2 separate regions of the Homo sapiens genome follow, and region 1 is linked to region 2. A link means that fine-mapping ties the variant in region 2 to the expression of a gene that starts in the linked region. Tissue or cell type: monocytes. Region 2 holds a variant in brackets; the other region holds the start of a gene. All regions are shown on one strand. Distances are between the middles of the regions.

Region 1 (4,377 bases), 270 kb after region 2:
AATGTTTGCACGCGGCCACGGCTGCCACGTTTATTTCTTTGCTTTCTAGAAGTGTGCTGCCTTGCAAACTCCCACAGGGACACCCCCTCCACTTAATATCGATGTAAATGAGTTTACCCCCCTTCCCTGAGAGCCTTCTCCTGTGTGCCAGACACACTAGCCATTGTTTTAACGAACAACCCCCCCCTTCACATATACACCCTGTAGGCTGGGAGGTCTGGGTCCTATCTCCCCATCACCTGAACAAACCCCTCCACCACCCCCTACCTTTATCCTTTCCAGTTCAAATTTGCTTTCCATCTATGCATCTTCTAAAACCCTAACAAAGGGTTCCCAGATTAATGGGCGTCCAGCTGGAATCAAGATTTGGGTGACCTCAACCGTTCCACAAAAGACCCCTTGGGTAGAAGACTGAAGACAGTGAGGTTCCAACCTCCCTAGTTCAGACATTAGCCCCCTGGGAGCCGCACCCTCCCCTCAGCACCCAGCCCCTGCCTCTCCCCGGGCTGCAGCCCGAGCTCCCCGGATTGAAAACGAGTTATCTAATGAAAATTGTGTTAACTGACATTCCGGCCGACCGGGAGCAAATACCAGCGCTGTAAATCTCGCCGCGGAAATTTTCTCCAGCCCAGAATAACAATAGGACCCTGCAAAGGGCTTTCGCCAGCCCTTCTGGTTCCTCTCCTCTTGTGTGCCACGTTCTTGTCATTCCTTATGTTACAGAACATCAATCATAAATAAAGACGCTGTCCCCCAGCCGTGCCCGGGTCTCATTTACAAACATTAGCAGGGAATACGATTACCATTGGCCTTCGTGCCAAGCCCAATGTGGCTGCCCAATTCTCCCTCTCTCTCTCTCTCTCTGCCTCCATAACCCCCACTCTTCCAGAAAGGCCACTTTAGCATCATTTAAGCCGGCAGGCACAGCTCGCAGCCCTGCCCGTCTCAGTTGGCCACCAAACTGTAGCCCCAACTCGAGTGCGGACCCGGAATTGCAAGGCACTCGGCAGTTATTAACTGCATGCCTCAGTGCCCCGATTTTCTCCCCAGCTCAATGGCTTTGGGGGAGGGGGAGAGCGAGGAGTGGGGCGTTCGGAAGGACGGGGACTGGGAAGCGGCCAGGACGGGGAGAAGGCGCGGGTGCTGGAACCACTTATCAGAAGAAACTTAACGAGATTTGCCGGCGGATTAAAAAAAAAAAAAAAAGTGGGTCCCTTTTTATCTCCAGACTGATGATCTCGCGTCTTCCGCGAATGTCACGGTCAAGGCAGGATGCTCTAACCGCCCTGTTATCCGCACCATTTTCCCGCCCCTGATCCCCGCCGCACCCGCCGAGACTTTGCGAGACTCCAAGGCTGGGGGGCCTTGCCAGGCGCGTCCGGGGCACTCCGGGAAAGAACAGAGGCCGGAGCCGCGCCTCCACGGTGCGTTCTCTGAGATTCCACCTCCCAGCCCCGGCTCCTACGGGGTCCGCAGAGAACACCTCCAAATCTAGGGGAGGCACACAGACTCCCACAAAGGGAGGATGGGGAGAAAGTGATGGGGTTTCGAAGAGTCGCCCTAGGGAAGGAGAGAGAAAGAGCAGGGAAGAGAGGAAAGAAACAGAAGAAAAGCAGAGACGGGAGAGAGGAGACGAGGGGAGCAGCGGGGAGAAACGCAGGAGGCAGAACAAGCAAGGAAATCTCTCATTTAAAAGTTCCCTTGGGCCCGAGGGCTGGGAGTCACCTGCTCTGCGCCGCTCCCGGCTCTCCACCGCCCTGGAGGCAGGAGCGCAAACTTGCGAGCGCCCGGGCCCACCTCCACCGCCCGTCTGCATCTAGACTTGGGAAGGGGATGGAAGGGGCGGGGGGGTAAAGGCAAGAAGCAAGACGAACCCCAAGACCCCGGCCCGAGGAGAAGAGGTCTGCCGGCGCTTGCGGCCAGTCCGGCGGCGGCGGCTCTGGCGGCGGCGGCGGCGGCCCCCGGGTGGCGGCGCGTCCGGGCTGCGCAGCCAGGCGGGCGGCGAAGGCTGAGGTGCCGGCGAGCGGCGGGGCGCGGAGCCGCCTCCTCGCCAACCCCGGCTCCCTCCTCCTCTCTCCTCCTCCTCCTCCTCTCCTCCTCCTCCTCCCTGCCCGCCAGCTCCCTCCCTCCCTCGCCGGAGCCCCAGCCGGGTGCGGACTGGCAAGCGGCGCGCTCCGCGGCCTCCCCGGGCGCCGCGAAGTTGGGAGGCGCGCAAAGTGCGGCTCAGGGGGGACCGCCGGGGGTTCCCGCCAGCAGCCCCCTGCCCGAGGCCGTAGCCCCTGCCTTCCCCGCTCCTCGCCCGGCCGCCTGGCCGCTCGGCCGCTCCGCCGACCGAGGGCTCACTAGCGCTTCTCCATGGTCGCGGCAGCTAATCGATGACTGAACCGAACAAAGAGCAGCGGCGAGATCAATTCCTAATACCTATCGATGGGCAGCGGGCGGCCGAGCCCCGGCGAGCCCCGGCAGCCGCCGCCCGCCGCCCCAGGGCGTCCGCCTGCCCGCCCGGGGACCTCCCCAATGCGCCCAGGGCGCGCCCGGGGGCTCCTCACGGCCGCGCGGCCGGCGCTGCCCGCACTAACCTGGAGTCGCCGTAGATCAAATCGCTTCCAATATTGAAACATCGATCCCACATTGGCGGCCATCTTGGGGGCTATCGAGACGCGCACACACAAGAGTTTGGCTTTTCTCAATGGCTGCACTCAATATCCGGGCTGGACTCCCCCCAGCCCCGGGGCCGCCGCCGGCCGCCCGGGCCCTGAGCGCCGCGGCCCGGGGCCCCTCGGGCGCCCTCCGGCCTCCTGCCACCCGCTGCCCCTCGCCGCCGCCGCGCCGCCGCCGCCGCCGCCGCCAACGGGCCCGGGAGCCGTGCGCCCCCCCGACCCCCGGAGGGCGCGGGCGGAGCGCGCCGGGCGGGGAGCTCGGCGCCCGCCCGGGGGAGGCAGCCGGGGATGGGGTGGGAGGGGAGGGGTTGGGGGGAGGCAGCCTCTCCGAGAGGCGCCGGCGCCGCCGCTGCCCTGCCTGCCGCCGGCTCCCGGGCCCGCGGAGCGCTCGCTGCATCTCCCCCCCAAGTCCGGGGTCGGTGTGCCGCGCGATTGCACTTGACTTTGGCTTTTTGCAAACTTATCAATACTGACGTAACGTGCTGATCAATGCAAAGGGAAGTTTGGGAGGGGGCGCTGCGGGAGGCGGGCGCGCGGGGCGCCTACCCCCGCTTGCACCTGTCTACCCCCAGCTCCCGGCATTGCACGCTTAAAAAAAAGTTAATAGTTTGAAATGCATTTTTTTTTCTTTTGCAATCGGAGCACACACAACACGTGCCTCGGGCTGCCGCCGCTCCATCGCCAGATATGCTTGGGATCCGAGGGTCGCAGCCAGCACTTGGGGCTGCGTAGACGCGCCGGCCGGAGGGAGGGTGGGAGCCGCCCGGGGGCGCCACTGAGTCGTGGGAAATGTCACCACCACCGCCCACAGTTTCCGCGCCATTATATTATTATTATTGGCGGGGAGGGGGGCTTCGTCTGAGTAGTAGCTCAGGGTTCTTTACGGGCGGGGGCCGAGGGCGGGGCCTCAGGTCCTTTGGAATAGGGATTTCTGTTGTTATTATCTGGGGGGTCTTTAACCCAATTATAGGGACTCCCCCACAGCTTTGCAAGGTGAAACCCTTTTACTGTGATGATGATTATTGGAGGTTTTGTTATTTGGTTCTGAACCAAACCTCTGGAGGGCCTTTTCCCCCAGTGGGCTTGTTTTATTGTTATGACTGTTGAGGGTGCCCTACCCCTGCTGTGGGGGCTCCGGATCCTTAAAAACCTCGGAGGTTTCTGCTGTTGTTATCATCATTATTATCCGGGGCTCCGTTCTTTGCAACATGACATTCCTTTATTGTGATTGTCTTTGGGGAGAGGGTCTTCAGCATGGCTAGAGGGAGGTTCCGGTCCTTTGCAATTCTTCGGACTCTTGACAACCGGGGTGACTGGATTTCTTGTTTTACATTTTTCTGTCTGCTTTTTTGTTTGTTTGTTTGTTTGTTTGTTTGTTTGTTTTTGCCTCTGTGCAAGCTCGAGGTCCTCTGTTTCCACTTCCCCTGGAGGTGAGATGTCACCTCCAGGGGGAACTCATACTCCCAGCCCCCTCCATCACCAACCCCCTTGCCTATCCCTGCCACCACCCTTAAAGGTGAGGTCACCCTTCCTCTCTGGCTTATTCCCCTGATACATAGCACCGCACCCTCTTCCCCACTCAAAAAAAGGGGACATGTTTTTCCTTTTTCTCTGATCAAAAGATTTGCTTTTATGGACAGCAAATGGAAATTATATTCTTTTTATGACCCAGCCTAGACTTCTGACATCACTCTTGGTCTGGGACAATAGATCAATA
Region 2 (4,377 bases):
TTAACCCAGGAGGCAGAGGTTGCAGTGAGCTGAGCTTGTGCCACTACACTCCAGCCTGGGTGACAGAGTGAGATTCCATCTCAAAAAAAAAAAGAAATGATGACGACAATGACTATGGCAACCACCACCCCTAACAGTTCTCAAGCAGCACTGCATGCCAGGTGCTGTGGTCAGTGCTTGATGCCCGTTTAATCCTCATGGTGCCTCCTGGAGGCTGACAGATGCAGAAACCGGGGCACAGGTGAAAGGAGTTGTCTGAGGTCACCCAGTGGGTGAACAGCAGAGCTGGGACTCAAACTCAGGCATTTGTGAGGCCACAGCTGGGACCCTTCATACTGATTACCTGAAAAATCAAGTCTGGTAAGGTTGGCGGTCTTACAAATGTATAAACTGAGGCTTGGAAGTGCTGGATGAATACCTGCCAGGGCAGCGCCTGGAGCCTTTTCCCGCCACCCTTACCCTGAGTGCCCCAGGAAGGGCAGACTGTCTCTGGCCAGGGCCAGGAAGGAGAGAGCGAGGATGTATTTCCTGCTTTTACAGAGGGGAAACTGAGGCACAGACAGGCAAAGCCACTGGCCCTGGGTCACACAGCCAGGTGGTGGTAGAGCTGGGCTTTGAACCCAGAGCGCGTGTCCTCAGCCCCCAGCCCTGATGCCCTGGACCTGGCGTGGTGGCCAGCGGGGACGGGCCCTCTTGGGCACTCACCTCGCTGCCGCACTTGGATGGTCCTGAGCGCCAGTACATTCTGCTCATCCGACAGGAACTGCTTCATCTTGATGAAGGGCTCCTTGCCCTTCACCGTGAGCTTGCGCCAGGGCTTGGGCCGGGCTAGGATCTCGCTGACCGAGCCCTGCGACAGCCCCAGCACGTAATGCCCAAACACCCGCTGCCCGATGTTGTGTTTCAGCAGCTGCTCCTTCACCTGGAAGGCGATCTCTGCCGTGTCCAGCTGCTCCTCCTCTGCCCCGGGCCCCGCCGCTCCGCCCCCACCACCATCCGCGGGCTCAGGACCGCCCAGTGGCTCAGGGCCAGGGGCCGGGGTGGCAGGGGCTGTGGGGGGCTTGGCGCCATAGAAGGCTGGGGGGAACACCAGCAGGCCGCCCGCCTCTCCCTTGAAGGCGGCTGGGGGCATCATCAGTCTCTCCCCTGATGCCAGGCTGGGGAAGGGGGACAGCGAGAAAGTCCGAGTGCCGTCAGGCCCCAAGCTGGGGCCCAGCAGGGGCTGCCCGGGGCTGGGAGACAGGGGGTCTTCTGGCCCTGGTGGAGGTGGGAGCTGCTGAGGGGAGGGGTAGGACTGCTCCGTGCCCAGTGAATCCTTGATGGAATCGTCCTCTGATGGGTCTTCCTCTAGAACACCCAGACAGACAGACAGACAGACAGACGGGGAAGACGATGATGAGGGGAGAGAGAGACAGGGAGAAAAAGAACCAGAGGGGGAGAGAGACAGAGAGAGACAACGAGAAAGAGAGACAGAGAGAGAAACCACATCAGAGAGACAGAGAGAGAGAGGGAGAGCGAGACAGAGACCACATGTGAGAGAAAGAAAGAGACAATGAGAGAGACAGAGAGAGAAATCACATGAGAGGGACAGAGAGAGAGAGAGGGAGAGCAAGACAGAGAGACCACATGAGAGAGAGAGAGAGAGATAAAGAGACAAAGAGACAGAGTGAAAAACCACATGACAGAGAGAGGCAGGGAGAGGGTCGGGGGGGAAGAGACAGAGAGAGACAGAGACATATATAGAGACAGAAAGTCAGAAATAGAGGAAGGAAGGAGGAGGAGGAGGGAAGGGGTTGGTGGGGAGGT[G/A]GGGGTGGGGAGCAGTGCTATAGGCGTCCAGCAGCTGGAAGCGCCGACCTTGGCTCTTTCTGCCCTACCCCCTCCATTCTCCAACTCCCACTCTTCCAGGCCCCATCCAAATGCCAGTTCTGGGGAGCGCCCCACCCCCATCACCAAGAGCATCAGCTGAGAACTTGCTATGGGCCCAGCACCTTGGCCTGGGGTGGGAAGTCGAACTTGCCACCACCTGCAGATGGGCCCTTGCTGGGCACCCACCCTGGAGCTGACTCACTAGACCTACATGGCACCCATGAAGTGGGCCCCAAGGTCACACCCATTTTATGGATGAGGAAACAGAGGCAGCACAGTGTCCTGCCTGGGGCCACAAGGCTAAAAGTTCAGTGGGTGGCTGGGTGCGGTGGCTTATGCCTGTAATCCCAGCACTTTGGGAGGCTGAGGCAGGCGGATCACCTGAGGTCAGGAGTTTGAGACCAGCCTGGCCAATGTGATGAAACCCCATCTCTGCTAAAAATATAAAACTTAGCTGGGTGTGGTGGTGCATGCCTGTAATCCCAGCTACTCAGGAGGCCGAGGCAGGTGAATTGCTTGAACCCAGGAGGCGGAGGCTGCAGTGAGCCGAGATCACACCACTGCACTCCAGCCTGGGCGACAGAGAGAGACTCGGTCTCAAAAAAAAAGTCAGCGGGTGGCTGACAGGGTGATCATGTCCGCAGCCTACTGCTCCCCACAGTGGTCGGCTGTGGGGGGTGTAATGACAATGCCCTGCTTGTCCCCCTGTGACCACTTCATGAAAGCCGCTGCAGCTCAAGAAGGCTCAGTGGGGAGTGGAGCTCTTTAGGGGGCCTTGGAAGGGCCCAAACCAGCTGTGTGACCCCAACGATGACGTGGGTGTTTGTGGATGCCCTGCAGGACAGGCATACAGCAGGTGCCAAATCAATGCACACCTGTTGTTCTGTCGTTCTCCTGCCTGCATGGAAGGCAGTGGTCCTTGGGCATGAGAAGGCCAGAGACCCACAGGCAGCCCCCGCCCCAGCCCTCAGCCCCAGAGTATCCTCCTCCCCTACCAGGGCTGGCCAGGAGGCTGGGCTTCTCCAGAAGGAATTTCTGCGTGGGGAAGAAGGCCTCCTTTGCAATAAGCAGTGAGTCTTCAGGCTTGGCCATGCCCTAGGAGACAAGAGGCAGGTTGAGAGGGCACCTGGTGGGCGGAAGGCTCACTGGGGCAGCCTGCCCTGCAGGGATGGTGGCAGGGACACTTACCTGGGGGAGGCTGCAGGTGCTGGAGGCCAGCTTCATGGCTTTCAGGATGCTGCCAGAGCAAGTGGAGAGGGTCTGAGGTCAGCCAGCCCCCGGGCTGGAGGAGAGGTCTTTCAAGAGGCACTGACCCGGCTTACCTCCCTGACAATGACTGCTCCATTCCCCAGAACCCCATTAATTCCAGAGTCATTGCAACCCCAGGCCTGAAGTAGCAGGCTCATTAACAGGTGGCGATGTTACCTGGAGGGGTGCTGCCTGAACTGACCCATTCTGGCCAGCTTGAGTTTAGCTGGTTAATGAATCACCTTCCAGTTACCATGCCTATAATAAGTTCCCTTGTATGGTCTACAGGCAGCTTCTTTTTTTCTTTGAGATGGAGTCTCACTCTGTCACCCAGGCTGGAGTGCAGTGGCACGATCTCTGCCTCCCAGGTTCAAGCGATTCTCCTGCCTCAGCCTCCCAAGTAGCTGGGACTACAGGTGAGCGCCACCACACCTGGCTAATTTCTGTATTTTTAGTAGAGACAGGGTTTTGCCCTTTCGGCCAGGCTGGTTTTGAACTCCTGACCTCAGGTGATCTGCCCGTACAGGCAGCTCTTAATGGAAAAGGACTGAAGATGGTTGAATTTCGTTTTGTTTTTGAGACAGGGTCTCACTGTGTTGTCCAGGCTGGAGTGCAGTGGTGCCACCACAGCTCACTGCAGCCTTGACCTCTCAGGCTCAAGCAATCCTCCCACATCAGCCTCCTGAGTGGCTGGGACTACAGCACGCATCACCACCACTCCTGGCTAATTAAAATTGTTTTTTTCTCACAGAGATGGGGTCTCCCCATTGTTGCCCAGGCTGGTCTCAAACTCCTGACCTCAAGCGATCCTCCTGCCTGGGCCTCCCAAAGTGTTGGGATTACAGGGATGAGCCACTGCACCTGGCCTGAGGATGGTTAAGGTTTGATATCCACAGTGTTAGTGGAGAGAAGAACAAATGGGGTTTAGTAGGAGGGAGGAAGATGATGAACTTTGCCAAGAGCTCCTGGCCAGGGAAGAGCACTGAGGGTCTGTGGAGCCCCACCCCACATGGTACCTCAGCTCCGTTTTAATTTCCTCATAGTCAGACTGGGCCTGGAGCTTCTCTTCCAGCTTCTAGAAGAGCAAAGAAAGATGGTGAGGCTGGTCTGTGTGCTTCTGCATGGGGCCGCCTGCCCGCCTGCCTCCTCCCCAGGACCCACTTCTATGGCCTCGGACTTGGCCGTGAGCTGCCGCTCCAGGTCGGCGATCTGGTTGGCGGATGCCTCCTCCAGCTCCTGCAGTGAGCTCTGGAGGTGCTGCAC

Direction of the effects. Alleles are on the strand shown, and positions count from the first base shown. SD is a standard deviation of normalised expression in the study named.
With allele A in place of G in region 2, the expression in monocytes of the gene that starts at base 2,655 in region 1 is lower (large effect, 1.2 SD a copy in Quach 2016).

What was found. PIP is the estimated chance that this variant, and not a neighbour inherited with it, causes the effect.
Region 1: CUX2 starts here. The variant in region 2 is the best candidate, but not a certain one, in a credible set for the expression of CUX2 in monocytes (Quach 2016, PIP 0.83).

The regions. Positions count from the first base shown.
Region 1 is chr12:111,032,443-111,036,819 of GRCh38, reverse strand. CUX2 (cut like homeobox 2) reads right to left here and starts at 2,655. Exons shown (of 22, transcript NM_015267.4): 1 at 2,580-2,655. The coding sequence starts at 2,642.
Region 2 is chr12:111,307,011-111,311,387 of GRCh38, reverse strand. It overlaps CUX2 (cut like homeobox 2), which reads right to left. Exons shown (of 22, transcript NM_015267.4): 11 at 4,276-4,377; 12 at 4,131-4,189; 13 at 3,055-3,103; 14 at 2,862-2,961; 15 at 706-1,347. The region is part of intron 2 of LOC105369983 (a long non-coding RNA gene); the gene reads left to right. Among named protein-coding and RNA genes, the nearest start is that of MIR6760, 5.1 kb to the right of the region's middle. The variant G/A (reference allele first, on the strand shown) is at 1,807.